Homo sapiens: one gene and its partners. The protein of the gene in region 2 purifies or fractionates together with the protein of the main gene of each other region. This does not show direct contact. Each region holds a gene or a part of one and is shown on either strand. Other genes may lie near its edges.

Evidence for each region. The genes of interacting proteins can lie anywhere in the genome.
Region 1: the proteins of GSPT1 (region 2) and EIF4B fractionate together in Homo sapiens (co-fractionation; 2 studies listed by BioGRID). This does not show direct contact.
Region 3: the proteins of GSPT1 (region 2) and PABPC4 purify together in Homo sapiens (affinity purification with mass spectrometry; 2 studies listed by BioGRID and IntAct, with this or other methods). This does not show direct contact.

The regions. Positions count from the first base shown.
Region 1 is NC_000012.12:53,037,450-53,042,741, forward strand, and holds the end of EIF4B (eukaryotic translation initiation factor 4B), read left to right. Parts: coding exon 1-173; intron 174-906; coding exon 907-962; intron 963-1,788; coding exon 1,789-1,894; intron 1,895-2,180; coding exon 2,181-2,253; intron 2,254-2,693; coding exon 2,694-2,774; 3' UTR 2,775-4,766; downstream 4,767-5,292. UniProt on the Homo sapiens protein: Required for the binding of mRNA to ribosomes. Functions in close association with EIF4-F and EIF4-A. Binds near the 5'-terminal cap of mRNA in presence of EIF-4F and ATP.
Region 2 is NC_000016.10:11,884,934-11,891,965, reverse strand, and holds part of GSPT1 (eukaryotic peptide chain release factor GTP-binding subunit ERF3A), read left to right. Parts: intron 1-826; coding exon 827-904; intron 905-4,215; coding exon 4,216-4,396; intron 4,397-5,034; coding exon 5,035-5,189; intron 5,190-5,354; coding exon 5,355-5,495; intron 5,496-6,691; coding exon 6,692-6,785; intron 6,786-7,032. UniProt on the Homo sapiens protein: GTPase component of the eRF1-eRF3-GTP ternary complex, a ternary complex that mediates translation termination in response to the termination codons UAA, UAG and UGA.
Region 3 is NC_000001.11:39,560,290-39,566,796, reverse strand, and holds the end of PABPC4 (polyadenylate-binding protein 4), read left to right. Parts: intron 1-1,418; coding exon 1,419-1,691; exon of another isoform or gene 1,692-1,727; intron 1,728-2,023; coding exon 2,024-2,111; intron 2,112-2,254; coding exon 2,255-2,374; intron 2,375-2,874; coding exon 2,875-2,961; intron 2,962-3,055; coding exon 3,056-3,183; intron 3,184-4,380; coding exon 4,381-4,474; intron 4,475-4,593; coding exon 4,594-4,724; intron 4,725-5,009; coding exon 5,010-5,099; 3' UTR 5,100-5,112; intron 5,113-5,674; 3' UTR 5,675-5,981; downstream 5,982-6,507.

The sequences.
Region 1 (5,292 bases), on a different chromosome or scaffold from region 2:
ACACTCAATAAGGAGGAAGATTGCCACTCTCCAACTTCTAAACCTCCCAAACCTGATCAGCCCCTAAAGGTAATGCCAGCCCCTCCACCAAAGGAGAATGCTTGGGTGAAGCGAAGTTCTAACCCTCCTGCTCGATCTCAGAGCTCAGACACAGAGCAGCAGTCCCCTACAAGGTGAGTCAGTTTGGAAACAGTAGTTGGTTAACTGCAGATTCTAAAATACTGTGATGTAATGATGGAAGATCTCCTACGGGATGCCAGCGTTGTATAGCACCTTATAAGTTATGCTGGCTTTAGTCTCTTAGTGTGCTGGAACTGGCTCATAAGACCTAGTTGTTCCATTTTCTGGAGTTCCACCACTTTGATAGCTTGAAATCAGCTATGATGGGAGTACTAATGCCGCACAAATCTGCAAATACTGTAAGTCAGAGGCTTCCCTTTTGCCACATATTGGCAGTATGGTAGGGGGTAACTTCCTTTCATTTCTCTTAAGTCTTCTCATTTGTAAGCAAAATAGCAACACTATTAGCCTGGCGTGGTGGCAGGTACCTGTAATCCCAGCTACTCGGGAGGCTGAGGCAGGAGAATTGCTTGAACCTGAGAGCGGAGGTTGCAGTGAGCCGAGATGTGCCATTGCACTCCAGCCTGGGCGACAGAGTTAAGACTCCAAAAGAAAAGAAAATAGCAATACTAATCCTGCATGATGTGATGATTAGAAAGCATATGGCACTTTAGTGTTCAAATTACTGCTTTCATTGTAATCTTTCCCATATTTTAATGTTCCATAACATTGAGTATGATTTTGTTTTCTATAAAGCTTACCCACTGCATTTGGAGGATGATTATGTTTCTTGGTTGTTTTCTCCCTGAAACAACTGATGAATGTGATTACCTGTTTTCCTTCTAGTGGTGGGGGAAAAGTAGCTCCAGCTCAACCATCTGAGGAAGGACCAGGAAGGAAAGGTGAGCTCATAGTATGGGAAATAGGTTTTTCACCTAGAAGCCTAAATAAAAAGGCCTCCAAAATTAGATTTTGAAGAGCAGTGTGTCTCGCACCTGATACCGTGTTAAGAGTTCTTGGGTTGGCCAGGCGCAGGGGCTCACACCTGTAATCCCAGCACTTTGGGAGGCCAAGGCGGGCAGATCACAGGGCAGGAGTTTGAGACCAGCCTTACCAACATGGTGAAACCCCGTCTCTATTAAAAATACAAAAAAAATTAGCCGGGTGTGGTGGCACATGCCTGTAATCCCAGCTACTCGGGAGACGCTGAGGCAGGAGAATTGCTTGAACCCGGGAGACGGAGGTTGCAGTAAGCCAAGATGGCCCCACTGCACTCCAGCCTGGGCGACAGAGCAAGACTCTGTCTCAAAAAAAAAAGAATTATTGGGTTATCTACCTTTTCTTGCCAGTAGAGGGAGGAGTGGCCTCTTTGGAGAAAGTATGAAACCCTGCCCTTTCCTGGTAGAACATTTCTTTGACGGGGAGAAAAAAATCGGAAGGAAATTAACCAAGGTCACTACAGAGCGTCATAATCTTTATTTCCAGCTTGCTTTTCATGATGGCATATCCCTACATGGAACTTTTTAGTGGATTTTGTTTGTTTTTTGTATTTTTGTGTGCTGTAGAGGATGTGGAAAGAAGGGCTTCAGGAAGGAAGTCTGGGTTGGGGTGAGGTTAGTTTCCCTCAGTACATGTGGGCACAATTTTCTTCAGCTTAAGGGAAATCTTAGGAGAGGGACATTGATACTTTTACTTGCCTTTAATTTGTTTACATTACTGCCCAAGCAGATGAAAATAAAGTAGATGGGATGAATGCCCCAAAAGGCCAAACTGGGAACTCTAGCCGTGGTCCAGGCGACGGAGGGAACAGAGACCACTGGAAGGAGTCAGATAGGTATGCTTGTTCTCTTTCTCATCTTTCCTCTGATCCACATGTTTGTGTAATTAAGAAATTAAGTTCTTGGTTCTCAGAGCACTGCCAGATCGCTCATTGTGAGCAAACTAAAGTCAGCCAACGTAGACAGTTAAGATTCTGAAAATCTAGAAGTAATACATCATCCAGACAACAAGGACTGTTGACTAGAGGTGCCTGTTCAGTGCCTTGAAACTGCATGCATACACATGTTTGTATTAGGCGAGTCCTTTCCTAAAGACATGGTTTTATGCTTACGTCTCTGCAGGAAAGATGGCAAAAAGGATCAAGACTCCAGATCTGCACCTGAGCCAAAGAAACCTGAGGAAAATCCAGCTTCCGTAAGTGTTGAAGGCTGCTCCCAATTTTTCATTCTAAGAAAAATTCTTAGAATTCTAAGTATTCTTACTAAGAATTAAAAATTCTTAGTATTCTAAACTTTTTGCCGTTGGACTTCTTTCCATTTGGAATACAAAGTGTTTGGAAATAAGACATTGGTCTTTACTGAAATAGCGAAAGAAGTTTAGCTTTTTCCTGGTTTCTGTCTTCCTTTGTTCTCATCCCTTCTGCAAGGTGTAGAGGTGGTATGAGACTATAGTAAGATCGCATGTGCCTCTGACCCTCTTCCCTAGCTCCTCTCCAATGGACAATGCTGATGAGCAAGCAAGTGGGTGTCATCTGACTGTCATCCCCCATTGCCAAAGGATCAGTATCCTGTGTCTTGGGTTTTGATGTGATAATTCAGGGCCTTCATTATCCTGTCACTCTCGTTGTGTTACAGAAGTTCAGTTCTGCAAGCAAGTATGCTGCTCTCTCTGTTGATGGTGAAGATGAAAATGAGGGAGAAGATTATGCCGAATAGACCTCTACATCCTGTGCTTTTCTCCTAGTTTCTCTCCACCCTGGAACATTCGAGAGCAAATCAAAACCTCTATCCAGACAAGACAAAATAAAACTCACCATCTCCTGAAGACCTTTCTTACCTTTTTTTAAAAACAAAAAATGAAATTATTTTGCATGCTGCTGCAGCCTTTAAAGTATTGAAGTAACTGGAGAATTGCCAATACAGCCAGAGAGAAAGGGACTACAGCTTTTTAGAGGAAAAGTTGTGGTGCGTTATGTCACCATGCAGTTGCCAGTGTGATTAGTGCCTAGGGGTCTCCATTTAGCAGAAATGGTAATGACAGTGATATAATGCCTGGAACCTGGTTGGGCAGTAGGGGAGGGAGGTAGAAGGAAAAGTGTGAGATTTCTACCTTTTAGTTTTTATCCTATTGTGGCATATATGAATTCTCAAACATTATCTGAATAAATTTTCCACTCTTGGAAAGGTAGATTTAGCCTCAAGTTGTTCTAGTCTCCAGGAGGCTGCCAGCCCCTCCTCTTATTTAATTCTGAGTTTTGGGGGCCAGCCTAGAGGGAATTCCTTTTTTTTTTTTAACCCCCCAGGGGGGTAGTTGGGAGTGAGACTATAGGCCATAAAGAATGGGACTGCATTGGACCAAAATAAATGGGAAAATCGTGGTTTGAAAAGAAGCTTTTGGGAAGTGATGAGTCATTTTGCACCAGGTAATAGGGGAAAATTGTGTGACCTCCAGCAAACACATGAATGGTTATTTCCTGGAGCCGGAAGCACTTGGGGGTCGTGGTAATTCCCAGTGTTTTCTGTGTCCTAGTTTTACCCTTTCTAAACACTGTCCTTTTTGAAAGTTTTGAATATATCCACATTCTATTGAAACCTTGAAACTAAAAATTTAGACTCTTATCATCATCTTAAGTTCTTCATGCTACTCTTAACCTCCCAAAAAGCAGTATCTAAGTCACATACATGATGTCTTGGGCATTTTCTCAGCCATGGAGAACTCTGAAAGGAAGAATCGCTGCTTTTCTCAAGCAAATCGGTTTCTTGATGTCTTTTGGTTCTCCTTGCCTGCTCCTGATGCTTGGACCCCTTTTATTGATCAGAGTGCTCTAGAATAATGGATGGTCTTGGATGATGGATAAATAGGGACAGGGACAGTTAAATTGGGAGCCTTTCTTACAACCTTGATGGGATTTTTCCCCCCAAGTTTCCTTCTCCACTGAAATGCCACACTAATGCTTGTTGGATTCATGAGGTGGCCAGACCAATGTGTTGTTTTGTTGTTGTTTTTTTAAGCTTCCCTTGAGAGAATAAATGGTAATGGAGAGAACTATTTAACAAGGTCCTGGTTTCTCTTGCAACACAGTAGCTAAACTTGCCTGCTTTTATATGCATTTTTGTAGGGATCAGCTTGGTAGACAGTATTAGCGGAGAAACACCTTGATCTTGGTTTGCAAGCCCTTCTCCCATCAGTCCTAGATTAGGCCCTGTTCAGCCATGCAGGGGTGTTGGTTTATGCGTGCTGCAGCAGTGGGCATAATGAATATAATTTACCCAGTGGACAAAGGTGTGTACCAAGTGAATTTAAATAATTGGTGTGGATTGGCCAGTAGCTAAGAAGTGGGCTTTTAAAGAGTATTGAAGATTGAAAGGGTTTTTCTTTCTTTTTTAAAAAAGAAAAACAAACTATTGATTGTAGATAATGAAAAGCTAGGGTTTGCCCTCTTCATGTCTACTCTCCTTCCAAATAGTTATATCCAAAACTGTTTTTCCCTCTCCCCTACCTTGTCCCCCCTATTAAAATAGAAACAGGGATTGATTAATGTCCCGCTCCTGAATACATGTAAAATTTGTACAAAAATATCTTCTATGAAAATGATTTGTAATCTGTAGACTTATTACCTGGGAGATGTCTTGATGTAAAATCCCATCCTTTGGGTTGTGGGTTTTTTGTTTTCTCCAAATAAATCTGATCTTTAAAGTTCATTGTAATGCTGAAGTTCTTTGACAAATACTCTGCACTCCCAGTGGTTTTTACTGTAGTCATTGACCACCTGCTCCTCCTCCTCCTACCATCTCTGAAGTTTTCATTCAGTATTGGATACCATATTGTCCAAGATTAGAGGGTGGGGTTACAAGGGAATCTATTTCAGTGTTTATTGAGGCCCAATAATAGAGTTTGCATCCTAGCTCCCCTCTGGCTTTTTTTTTTTTTTTTTTTTTTTTTTTTGCCTGGTGTTAAATTTTTTAATCACCTGGATGTGCCTGCAGTCTATTTCCTGTACTGTTTATTTTAATCAAGATGTGGGAACTCTAAGAATGAATCCTTGTGTCCTTGGGGCAGTTCCCTCATAATCTCCCTCCCTCACTTCAGCAATCTGGAGAGATGCTGCTCCCTTGAGTTACACCGCACTGGTGGACCAGAGATACTGGTGACAGGCTGGTCGAGGTTACCAGAACAGAGGCTCACAGACTCAGTGGGAATTTTCCAAACAGCTAGGGACAGACTGGTCATTGT
Region 2 (7,032 bases):
TCTGGCCAGGCGTGGTGGTTCTCATGCCAGTATTCCCAGCACTTTGGGAGGCTGAGGCTGGCAGATCACTTGAGGTCAGGAGTTCGAGACCAGCCTGACCATGGTGAAACCCAGTCTCTACTAAAAATACAAAAACTTAGCCAGGCATGGTGGCACACGCCTGTAATCCCAGCTACTTGAGAGGCTGAGACAGGAGAATCGCTTGAACCCAGGAGGAGGAAGTTGCAGTGAGCTGAGATCACGCCACTGCACTCCACCCTAGGCGACAGAGCGAGACCCTGTCTCAAAAAAAAAAAAAAAATATGGCCAGGCGTGGTGGCTCACGCCTGTAATCCCAGCACTTTGGGAGGCTGCGGCAGGTGGATCACCCAAGGTCAGGAGTTCGAGACCAGCCTGGCCAACGTAATGAAACCCCATCTTTACTACAAGTACAAAAATTAGCCGGGTTTGGTGGTGGGTGCCTGTAATCCCAGCTACTCAGGAGGCTGAGGCAGGAGAATCACTTGAACCCAGGAGGCAGAGGTTGCAGTGAGCCGAGATTGTGCCATTGCACTCCAGGTGGATGACAAGAGCGAAACTCTGTCTCAAAAAAAAAAATATATATATATATGTAATATATATATTTTATATAAAAATGTGTAATATATTTTATATAAAAATATGTTATATATGTTATATATATATTTTATATTTTTTTAGACAGACACACACATATAAAATAACTATTTTCTGACGTTGAAATTTTCGACAATTTTCACGTTTTCCTAATTCCACTGAGTAATTTGTGAGTAATTGTTTACTTTTTTTTTTCTTTAAATGTTTTCAGGTATTTGACTGGAATGGTTGACAAAAGGACGCTTGAAAAGTATGAAAGAGAAGCTAAAGAGAAAAACAGAGAAACTTGGTATAGTAAACTTTTATGACACTTATAAATTACTTTTAAGGAGACGATGCCCACTTAGTGCTTTTGGAGCCTGTTAAAATATAAATTGTTGAAGTCTAAAATCGTATCACAACAAAGGAAATTTCCCCTCTCCTCATAATACACAGTAGATGAGTTCCTAATGCTTTAATAACTTACACAGAGAAATTTGGAAACAATCCATATATCTGGTGATAGACTTGTTGAAAATACTATAAACCATCCATTTAATTGGGTGATTTTGCAACCACTGAAAACTTACATTTACATAATTTATAGTAACCATGAATAGAACTTGCGTTGTGGTGGCAGTTGGGGGGAAGCAGGAAACATCCCTGTACTTAAGATATGACCATTATATAAATAAATGCTGGAAATAAAATGGAATGGAATTATTGACAGTGGTTGCCTTTGAATGGTGAGACAGTCAACTTTTTTGTTTTCTAACCTTGTTACTTTTATTTTTAAAAAGTTAGCAAGCCTTACCTCAATGGGATATTGACAGTCATTTTTTTAAAATAAAATTATATTCCTCTAAAATAAGCGGGAGAAATGCTAGTCAGTGTTGTTATAAAAAATTGAGGACATGCTGTGAAGATGATGAGGTAAGCTAAATTAATGCCCACTATTACGGATGGTTTGAATTTATATGAATTTTTGCCTGGCAGTGTGATATTGAAGCAATTTTTAGCAAGTAACCATTGCTCCCACATGGTGCGTTAGTGGCTTTCAGTTTTCAAAAATATCTGAGGACAGTTATTTTTTATTTTATTAAAAAGTTTTAGTCCTGGCACAGTGGCTTAAGCCTGTAATCTCAGCACTTTGGGAGGCCAAGACGGGCGGATCACGAGGTCAGGAGATCGAGACCATCCTGGCTAACATGGTGAAACCCCGTCTCTACTAAAAATACAAAAAATTAGCTGGGCAAGGTGGCAGGCACCTGTAGTCCCAGCTACTTGGAAGGCTGAGGCAGGAGAATGGCGTGAACCCGGGAGGCGGAGGTTGCAGTGAGCCGAGATTGCACCACTGCACTCCAGCCTGGGCAACAGAGTGAGACACCATGTCAAAAAAAAAAAAAGAAAAAAGGAAAACAACTTTTATTGGGCCAGGCGCGGTGACTCAAGCCTGTAATCTCAGCACTTTGGGAGGCAAGGCAGGCAGATCACACCTGAGGTCAGGAGTTCGAGACCACCCTGGCCAATATGGTGAAACCCTGTCTCTACTAAAACTACAAAAATGGCCGGGCACAGTGTCTCACGCCTGTAATCCCAGCGCTTTGGGAGGCCGAGGCAGGCGGATCACCTGAGGTCAGGAGTTCGAGACCAGCCTGACCAACATGGAGAAACCCTGTCTCTACTAAAAATACAAAATTAGCTGGGCATGGTGGCGCATGCTCTAATCCCAGCTACTCGGGGGGCTGAGGCAGGAGAATCACTTGAACCTGGGAGGCGGAGGTTGCGGTGAGCCGAGATGGTGCTGCTGCACTCCAGCCTGGGCAACAAGAGCTAAACTCCATCTCAAAAAATATATATACAAAAAGTAGCCGGGCGTGGTGGTGGGCACCTGTAATCCCAGCTACTTGGGAGGCTGAGGCAGGAGAATAGCTGGAACCTGGGAAGCAGAGGTTGCAGTGAGCCGAGATGGTGCCACTGCACTCCAACCTGGCCAGAGCAAGACTCCCATCTCCAAAAAAAAAAAAAAAAAAAAAAAAAAAGAAGAAGAGGGGTGGGGGTGCCGGGCACGACCTAGGCTCTGTTGCCCAGGCTGGAGTGTAGTGGCTCCATCTCCACTCACTGCAAGCTCCACCTCCTGGGTTCACACCATTCTCCTGCTTCAGCCTCCCAAGTAGCTGGGACTACAGGCACCCGCCACCACGCCTGGCTAATTTTTTGTATTTTTAGTAGAGACAGGGTTTCACCGTGTTAGCTACGATGGTCTCAATCTCCTGACCTTGTGATCTGCCTGCCTCAGCCTCCTAGAATGCTGAAATTACAGGCGTGAGCCACAGCATCCATCCAAAAAAGTTTTATTATTACCCTTTAACTCTCAAGACAGCCATTATTTGTGTTGTATTTTGTGCCATGTGAGTATAAAAATGAAGTAATAAGGGAGCTCATTATCACTTAACACACAGTGATATTGGCATTTGTAGTTAGTCTTTCTGTGTAGTCAACTTGCCATAAAGTTCTAGATGGTATAATTGACTGCGTTTATATAAAAGCTCTAAGGGTTTGAATCAAAATAATACATTCTTTCAGTTTTATTTTATTTATTTATTTTTTTGAGACGGAGTCTCACTGTGTCACCAGGCTGGAGTGCAGTGGCGCGATCTCAGCTCACTGCAACCTCCGCCTCCTGGGTTCAAGCGATTCTCCTGCCTCAGCCTCCCGAGTAGCTGGGACTACAGGCGCCCGCCACCATGCCCAGCTAATTTTTGTATTTTTAGTAGAGATGGGGTCTCACCATGTTGGCCAGGATGGTCTCAATCTCTTGACCTCAGGTGATCCGCCTGCCTTGGCCTCCCAAAGTGCTTGGATTACAAGCATGAGCCACTGCACCTAGCCCTTTTTTTTTTTTTTTGAGAGACAGAGTCTCCCTCTGTTGCCCAGCCTGGAGTGCGATGGCACGATCTTGGCTCACTGCAACCTCTACCTCCCAGCTTCAAGCGATTGTCCTGCCTCAGCTTTCGAAATAGCTGTGACTACAGGTGTGCACCACTATGCCCAACTTTTGTATTTTTAGTAGAGATGAGGTTTCATCATATTAGCCAGGCTAGTCTCGAACTCCTGACCTCAGGTGATCTGCCAGCCTCGGCCTCCCAAAGTGCTGGGATTACAGGCGTGAGCCACTGCGCCCAGCCCTATTCTTTCAATTTCTTTGTTTTCTTTTGAGACGGAGCCTTGCTCTGTCGCCCAGGCTGGAGTGCAATGGCACGGTCTTGGCTCGCTGCAACCTCCTCCTCCCAGGTTCAAGCGATTCTCCTGCCTCAGTCTCCTAAGTACTACAGGTGGGCTCCTCCACACCCAGCTAATTTTTGTATTTTCGGTAGAGACAGGGCTTCACCATGTTGGTCAGGCTGGTGTCGAACCCCTGACCTTGTGATCCGCCGCCTTGGCCTCCCAAAGTGCTCAGATTACAGATGTGAGCCACCGCACCCGGCTCAATTTTCATTTCACCAATCTTGTTCGTGATTTAGGTGTTGTGTGTCATCCATTATATCTTTAATGGTGAAGAATATCCTAAAAACTCTGATGTTCTTAGGAATATTGTTCTTTTTTTAAAAATTATTTCAGGTACTTGTCTTGGGCCTTAGACACAAATCAGGAAGAACGAGACAAGGGTAAAACAGTAGAAGTGGGTCGTGCCTATTTTGAAACCGAAAAGAAGCATTTCACAATTCTAGATGCCCCTGGCCACAAGAGTTTTGTCCCAAATATGATTGGTGGTGCCTCTCAAGCTGATTTGGCTGTGCTGGTAAGAAAGACATTTCCAGTCCATCTGTATATTTGTTAGTAGCCCCGCTTATATCTTTAAATTTGAATTTATCTTCTAAAAGCTCAAATTCAGGTTGCAGTGAAATATAATGATGTACACGGTCACAGTTTTCATCATACTAATCTCTCTTCAAGAAATCTTCAAAATTTGATTTACTTCTGAAAATACGTTTCACCTTTTCTCTCCTGTTGCTATTATCTATTACCATGTCAGAACTTAGTCTCCATTAAATGCCAAGCCCACCGTTAGGCACCATGGGTAAAAAATGAATAGGAAACCATCTGTTTCATACGGTCTTCAGTCATTTTGCGCTTTTCACAATGTACTGGTAGTAGATCACAATTTTTTTTCCTTTGTAGTTACAATAGCTAGAAAGTAAATGTTGGAATTTTAAAATATGCAGGTATACTAGATTTTGGGAATGTGGGGGATTGGAAGCATCTAGACATTGTTTGATTTGTGACATTCAAAAGCAGGTACGTCATAACTCGTTTGCTTCTATTTTCTTGCAAAAAAAAAAAAAAAAACTCGTGATATAACTGAAAGGAAAGATGTTTTACTGCCATAAGGGTATGCCTGAAGGCGAAGGAGTAAACTGTTTCCTTTCTTGGAATTAGGTAATCTCAGCCAGGAAAGGAGAGTTTGAAACTGGATTTGAAAAAGGAGGACAGACAAGAGAACATGCAATGTTGGCAAAGACAGCAGGTGTAAAACACCTAATTGTGCTAATTAATAAGATGGATGATCCAACAGTAAATTGGAGCAATGAGAGGTGAGCGTAGATGTCTGGTATTTTATGTTAGTGGGATTAAGGATGGTTTTGTTATTGTACGACTTTTTCTCTAGGGTTTTTCTAAACCTTAATCTGTTTACTTAGGAAACTAGAGTTCTTGGTTTACATTATAATTGAGTTATTTTGGTTACATTATAATTGCAGATATGAAGAATGTAAGGAGAAACTAGTGCCATTTTTGAAAAAAGTTGGCTTCAATCCCAAAAAGGACATTCACTTTATGCCCTGCTCAGGACTTACTGGAGCAAATCTCAAAGAGCAGTCGGATTTCTGTCCTTGGTACATGTAAGTAACTGTTTTTTCCTTTTTTTAAAAAGGAAAAGGATGTTATTACTTAAATTACTTATAAAGACATATGCTGAGTAACATGTTAACATATGCTTTTGAGCATATATCTTTATAAGTAATTTAAGAAAATATTAAATGTAACCTTGGCTTTAAAAATACTAAGATCTTTGCCCATTTTTAAACTGGGTTGTCATTTTGTTACTGAGTCCTAAGAGTTCTTTTTAATACTGGCTACCAGTCCCTTATCAGCTACAATATGATTATAGCAAGTATTTTCTCCCACTTTATGGATTGCCTTTTTTCACTTCTCGATGGTGTCCTTTGAAGCACAAAAGGTTTTATTTTTGAAGTTTTTTACATTTAGATATGTATTTGATTTTGAGTTAACTTTTGTGTAAGATGTAAGGTCTATGTGTAGGTTTGTTTTGTTTTTGTATATTAATTGTTTACACACAATTTGTTGAAAAGACTATTCTTTTTTCATTGAATTGATTTGGCTCCCTCTTTGAAAATCAAATGACCATAAATACGAGTTTATTCTTGAACTCCGTGTTTCTTTTTTTTGGTTTGTTTTTTTGAAACAGGTTTTCACTCTGTTAACCAGGCTGGAGTGCAGTGGCATGATCTCGGCTCACTGCAACCTCTGCCTCCCAGCTCAAGAGATCCTCCCACCTCAGCCTCCCAAGTCGTAGGGACTGTAGGCACATGCCACCGCACCCGGCTGATTTTTGTATTTTTAGTAGAGACAGATTCACCATGTTGCCCAGGCTGGTGTCGAACTCCTGGGCTCAAGAGATGCACCTGCCTTTCGGCCTCCCAAAGTGCTGGGATTATAGGCATGAGCCACTGCACGCAGCCAATACTGTATGTTTAAAGGGGAAATTATTTTATAGAATCTTGGTTTCATAGCTGGAAAAGTCCATAAAAAGTAATATAGTCAATTTATTACATGTAGGCTATTTGCTATAAAATATTTCTCTAAATTTTAATAAGTTTATGAGGAAGCCTTATACTGAGCAGTTTTATAATAGTTTTCTGTGGAATAAGTGAGATGAAATGGATAATAAAGTGGTTGAATGGGAAGAATACATGAGTAGAATGAAAATATTATTAGAAGCTGTTTATAGTCATGTAACTTAACATTTTGATATTTATGTTGACTTCCTTTAATGGCTTTGTTGTTATGTTCTCAGTGGATTACCGTTTATTCCATATCTGGATAATTTGCCGAACTTCAATAGATCAGTTGATGGACCAATCAGGCTGCCAATTGTGGATAAGTACAAGGTACCCAAAATGTTAAAGAAATTGGGTTTCCTGGGAGGGGAAATCATTGTTGTGCATTTTGTTTCTAGTTTTGAAAACTTTTTTTCTTTTCTTTTCTTTCTTGTTTTTTTTTTGACAGAATCTTGCACTCTGTCCCCCAGGCTGGAGTGCAGTGGCGCGATCTCAGCTCACTGCAAGCTCTGCCTCCTTGGTTCAAGTGATTCTCCTGCCTCAGCCTCCTGAGTAGCTAGGACTACAGGCTCCCGCC
Region 3 (6,507 bases), on a different chromosome or scaffold from region 2:
TGATCTTCTATCCTTGCTTATCTGCCTAGTAGTCAAGTTGGCATTTGTTAAGAGAGCAGAAGAGCCATACCTTGAATTGTCCCCATTTTCATTATGATGGTGTGGCATTTTTATTCACATACCTTACTGGCCCATCTCATTGGTAGAGAGTTATGGAGTGATGCACTTCTTTACTTCCCTATCCTCCACTTCAGGAGGCTCTCTGGGCCATTAACTAAGACATAAAACAATGACAGTCACACCAGAGAAGACAGTGAATAACCTTGTCTATTAGGAAGAATGCCATTTGTGAATGATGAACTTAATGTGGGAAAAGACTGCCTGAACCAGTAGACCTGTGGTTTTGTAGCTGTTTGGAGTATTTCTTGGAAATTGAGCCTCAGGAAGGCAAGTGAGACTAGAATCTAGGCTGCCTATCTCTGAGCTGGTCATCTCATTGAATTAATGGTGGCAGTCATTGGTTACCTGAACATTTTAGGACTCCTGTCCACACGTGGTATTCCAAAAGTGTTATCCTGACGTTGGTAAGAGCTTGTTAGAGTTTGTCCACCGAGGTCTTGAAGCATATGAGATATGAAAATAAATTGCTCAGTACTACTCTCAAGATGTTTTGTGGTTACCCGGAGTAGCTATCCACCAGGTATCAGGAAACATCTTTGAGTTCCTGGTTTTATTATTAGCCATATCATAGTGTTTCAGAACTTTAGCATCACCTGGGGACTCAAAGAAAACACCTAGATACCTTAGAGGTTGTGACTTAGTTGGTCTGGGGTAAATCCTGTGCCAGAACCCTGACCTAGACTCAGTGACTGCAGCAGAACCCAGGCTTTCTGGTTCTTCTGAATAGTTCCCTCCCCACCCAGGGACATCCTTTTTTTTCCTATTTGTAGGTTTGTTTTGTTTTTTTTGTTGGTTTGGTTGGTTGGTGTTTTTGTTTTGTTTTGTTTTGTTTTGTTTTGTTTTGTTTTGGAGATGGAGTCTCGCTCTGTCGCCCAGGCTGGAGTGCAGTGGCGCGATCTCGGCTCACTGCAATCTCTGTCTCCCGGGTTGAAGCGGTTCTCCTGCCTCAGCCTCCTGAGTAGCTAGGATTACAGGTGTGTGCCACCACGCCCAGCTGATTTTTGTATTTTTAGTAGAGACGGGGTTGCACCATGTTGGTCAGGATGGTCTTGAATTCCTGACCTCGTGATCCACCCACCTCGGCCTCCCAAAGTGCTGGGATTACAGGCATGAGCCACTGCGCCTGGCCCTTTGTTTTTTTGAGATGAGGTCTCACTACATTGCTCAAGCTGGTCTCAACCTCCTGAGCTCAAGCAGCCCTCCCACCTCAGCCTTCCAAAGTGCTGGGATTACAGGCACAAGCCATCACACCCAGCCAGGGACACCTTATTTCTTAAGTAGCTGGTCTCATTTTGTAGGTAATGCTGGAGGATGGAAGAAGCAAAGGGTTTGGCTTCGTCTGCTTCTCATCTCCTGAAGAAGCAACCAAAGCAGTCACTGAGATGAATGGACGCATTGTGGGCTCCAAGCCACTATATGTTGCCCTGGCCCAGAGGAAGGAAGAGAGAAAGGCTCACCTGACCAACCAGTATATGCAACGAGTGGCTGGAATGAGAGCACTTCCTGCCAATGCCATCTTAAATCAGTTCCAGCCTGCAGCGGGTGGCTACTTTGTGCCAGCAGTCCCACAGGTGGGTGTGCTGTTTGGTCACAGCTCTTGGGAACCTGCCGGCTGGCAGTATTCTGCAGTGGTTGGGGAGAGGGATTTTTCGTTATTAGAGTTCTAGAATGTCACAATAAGGACCCTTCAAGTAAAAATGAAGGACTTACCCATGGTCACAAACACACACCCACAGTGGCAGTGGTAGCATAAAACAGTCCCCATTAGCTGACCCCTCAGCTCTTGAATAGAAAGAACATTTAAATAATTAGCTTAGGTCCTGGTTAGTGAGATGAGATGAGATACTTCTCTAGGATGGGTTCAGTCCTTAAGGGGGTGTTTGGGTATTCTTCTGTCTTACAGGCTCAGGGAAGGCCTCCATATTATACACCTAACCAGTTAGCACAGATGAGGCCTAATCCACGCTGGCAGCAAGGTGGGAGACCTCAAGGTAGGTGGTGGGGAACAGTAATTGACAGCCCAGGATATACCTGTCCTGGTCTCCCCTGCCTTTCCTTCTTCCCCACTCTGAGGCACAGCCTAGGTTCTGGTCCACATCACTTCTCAATGATGTGCAATTTTTCTCTTCACCAGGCTTCCAAGGAATGCCAAGTGCTATACGCCAGTCTGGGCCTCGTCCAACTCTTCGCCATCTGGCTCCAACTGGTAATGCTCCGGCCTCTCGTGGCCTCCCTACTACCACTCAGAGAGTCGGTGAGCAAACTGGCCTTTAGAAGTGTGGCCTGGGGAGGAGGGAGTCAGGATGACTAGGCTCTGTCCTGGGTTGGTCAGTTTGTTGGGCTCGAATTTATCGAGTCCTGGTTCTGTAATCTTAGCTGTGTGCTTAGGTGGCCACTTCAGGAGCAGAGAAACAGTATGAGTTCTAGGTGTGTCAGTTGCTTTTAACATTCTTTGCTCATCGGTGACCTATGTGAAAAAGGTTAGTTGTAGAAGTTTGCTAGCTGGATGACCACAGAGGCAGCTTGTTCTTTTGGGTGGGGTGAGGAATACAAGGAAACAGTGTATACAGAATATGTCTTGTATTCCAAGATGTGGAAAGAGTTGTATGTTATCCTTTGGCTCATCCTCGAAAGTAGTAGTGGCCCCCTGTGCAATGTGTTGCGTAAACGTGCTTTGAAATTTCTCCTTCCGTGGGACGTGGCCAGTTGGACATCTGCCGCCAACACTGATGTGCATTTGCTGGTCTGTTGTAGGGTCTGAGTGCCCGGACCGCTTGGCTATGGACTTTGGTGGGGCTGGTGCCGCCCAGCAAGGGCTGACTGACAGCTGCCAGTCTGGAGGTGGTATTGGATGCACACAGAAGGGGGAAAGATGGGATTTGACGGGTCTTTGCCCAGACTGATGGGCTTTAATTGTATTTGTTCTTTCCCTAAGGCGTTCCCACAGCTGTGCAGAACTTAGCGCCACGCGCTGCTGTTGCTGCTGCTGCTCCCCGGGCTGTTGCCCCCTACAAATACGCCTCCAGTGTCCGCAGCCCTCATCCTGCCATACAGCCTCTGCAGGTGAGGTTCACCAGACAGAATGCTTAAAAGGATTTCCCCCATTTCCACTTGATGTAAAAGAAGCTGTGCTTTTGATTCCTTCAACAGGTATTAAATGCCTGCTCTGTGTTATGACGCTATGTTCTGATTCACTGTCCCTGCCCTTCAGGGGCTCACTAGTGGGAAAGAAGGGGCTTAAAAGTGCTCTGCCTGATGCCAGTTCACTCAGAAATGCCTCAGAGCGGGCAGCCAGTGCTTCCTCTTCTGTTTGTACGAAATAATGTGCTCATTCAGCTGTTTGAGCCTCCAGGTCACTTCCGCATCCAATGACCTATTGGATCCTTGGCTGCTCTGCAAGATGATTGGTACATTAATGCAGGAAATAACTTCAACTTACAGATCGGATGTTCAGCTTCAAAGATGTAAAGTGTGTGTAGGAGGTGAAGGGGTTGAACCTAGAGCTTAGATTTTCTAAGCTGTAACTTGCTGTCTCTAGACCTGTGCTCTAGATGCAACTAGTTTGTTTCAGAGCCTAATAGCAATTTGCTGTGGAGGTGTCACCCTAAGCCTTCAGGCCCATAAGCTGCTTAGGAGATTACTCTTTAACTGTCCTGTCTCATACTCTCTAAGTTGGGGATTTCCTAGAACTTGATGCTATGTAAAATACCTTTTCTTTGCAAGGCTTTGACTAGCATTGACGTTGCATGTTGACCGTTTTTAAGCATTTGATACAAAAACATTTGGTAGAATTAAGGTGATGTGGAATGTAATTATAAATGTGTTGATATTTACTCCCTTTGATCCAATCTGCACTGAGATTTACCCTAAAGGAAAACTAATTTTCAGGAAAAGGTTATATACAAGTGTTTACCCTTATTTATATCAAGGCTTTTCATTCTTGAGTAACTTTGGGTGTATTAAGGAAATGTCAGAAAATGCTTGCCTAGCACTATAGGTTTGTTTTATTATTTACGTTTCACTTCGCTTTCTGATAGCATGCCATTTTCATTGTAATTGGTTGTGTTTATGTCCATACCACTCTGTTCCTCAACACACCCCTCAATCCTTCAAGGACTGAAATTAGTTCCTTTAGAGCAAGGACAGCCACCTCCTCTCCTCTTTCACATAGTCAGATGTTCAGATATTGAACAGGCACTCAACCACCATCAGGTGTTGTCCTTTCCTCAGTGCTAACCCACTGCCTTTCCTGGTTCCCAGGCACCCCAGCCTGCGGTCCATGTGCAGGGGCAGGAGCCACTGACTGCCTCCATGCTGGCTGCAGCACCCCCCCAGGAACAGAAGCAGATGCTGGGTGAGTGACCCACTTGCTTGCAGAAGAAGAGGGTCCCAGAGCCTGATGCCAGCTAGGACACCAGTGTCCATTGTTTACTGGGATTTGATTTGTTTTTTTATTAACTATCCTCCCCATAGGAGAACGCTTGTTCCCACTCATCCAAACAATGCATTCAAATCTGGCTGGGAAGATCACGGGAATGCTGCTGGAGATAGACAACTCTGAGCTGCTGCACATGTTAGAGTCCCCCGAGTCTCTCCGCTCCAAGGTGAGCTGGGGCTCAGACCCTGCAGCTTCAGTTCTCAGCTTGGGAAGACTGGGGGCAAACTTGGATGCCCAGGTGCAGCAGAAAGTGGGATCTGCTGCCCCCAGGACCCCTCTCGTCATGCCTTGACTGTGACTGGAGGCTGCAGTGGGTATTTGGGAAAGTAGTTAGCACCAGAAGCCTAGGGATCATCTGTACAGTTGGCTTTGGTCCACCACTAGGTCTGGGCACTGGGGAGGGGTGGAGTAGCTCTCCTAGATTCACTGACCACCTGAAGATTTCTCGCAGGTGGATGAAGCTGTAGCAGTTCTACAGGCTCATCATGCCAAGAAAGAAGCTGCCCAGAAGGTGGGCGCTGTTGCTGCTGCTACCTCTTAGACAAGGAAAAACCGTATGTGTGGCTATTTTCATTTTTGTTCCTATGAGCATTGTTCCTATGAGCATTGTCTTTGTGGTTTGACCTGAGGTTGTATATATGCTCACTGCTTAGCTCTGGGAATACAATAAGTACAGTTAGTTACACGGAGTGTGTTGCAGGTGACTTCTTATCATGAGGACTGTGGACTTTGTCTGCAGGAGCTTGAGTGAATAATAAAACTAGTACTGGTTGATGGTTGTAGGTGTCTCCAGATAGGGAAAGAAGAGACAGTAAAATAAGCTAAGGAAAAAGCACATGGTAAGGACCAGAGCTGGTGTGTTGGGAGGGTTGACTTGGCATAGTCATGACCCTCTTGTCAAGGGCCTCAGGAGCCTTGTCATCTAGTGGTAAAGACCAGAGATGCTGCTAAATGTTGTACAGTACACAGGAGGACAGACCCAACAGAATGTCCAAAGTGTCAATAGCACTGAGGTTGAGAAACTCTCTTCTAGAATACCTTCCTTTATCCACTATATGTTAATGAATCTAAATTATTTGATTATGCATTTATTTGTGTTGGTGCTTTTCTTTACAGGATTCAAAAGCCAAATAACCCCTTATGGAATTCAACTCAAGGTTTGAAGACTTCCTAGCTTGTCCTATGGACCTCAACACCAAGGATTACAAATTGCAAATTTAATAGGTCATTTTGTATCAAAAGGTCAATTATGAAGCACCTAGAATTTTTCAATTATACGAATATGTTCTTTGGGTTCTGCTGTGGCCCAGACAGTGTTAACTTTTTTTTTATTGTGGGTTTTGATTTTTTCCCCCAGAAATTGGTTTTATTTGATGTACCCAAGTCTTACGTTTCCCAATAAAGAAAAAAAATCTCCATAAAACTGCCTCTGTCTCTGACCACAGTTTTACTCTATGAATTCCGGTTTTCACTGGAAGTAACTTTAGGATGTGAATTGGTTCCAGTGATAGTTTATTCTTTCTTGACTTGAAGCTGACAAAGATTAGCAAGATACACAGAACTGTTAAATATGATCCTGTCCCACACTGTTCTGTTACAGTATGATTGTTACATTAGCCCCATTTAACTTAGAGGGAACAGAGATCTGATGTGGTCAGAGCAGACCATGGGTCTGGCCCAGGAAAATCTGGGGCAGAGTGGGGTTGGCGCACACCCCAAGGACATACGGTGAGATCTGCAGATCCCAGTTGGTTAGTTGAGCCCCGTCCTTCCCTTCCTGAACTCGGTTGGGGTGTGTCCTGTCCCCTCTTATTTCCTGCAGTCAGTTTATGCTGCATTCGAGTCAGCGGATCCAGTTCCCCAGATTCTGCAACCAAGTTTTCCCCTAGCAGGGAAAATGGGAGGTCTGTGACTATAGCAAATGGTGCTGAAGTCTTCAGTGCTTGTGG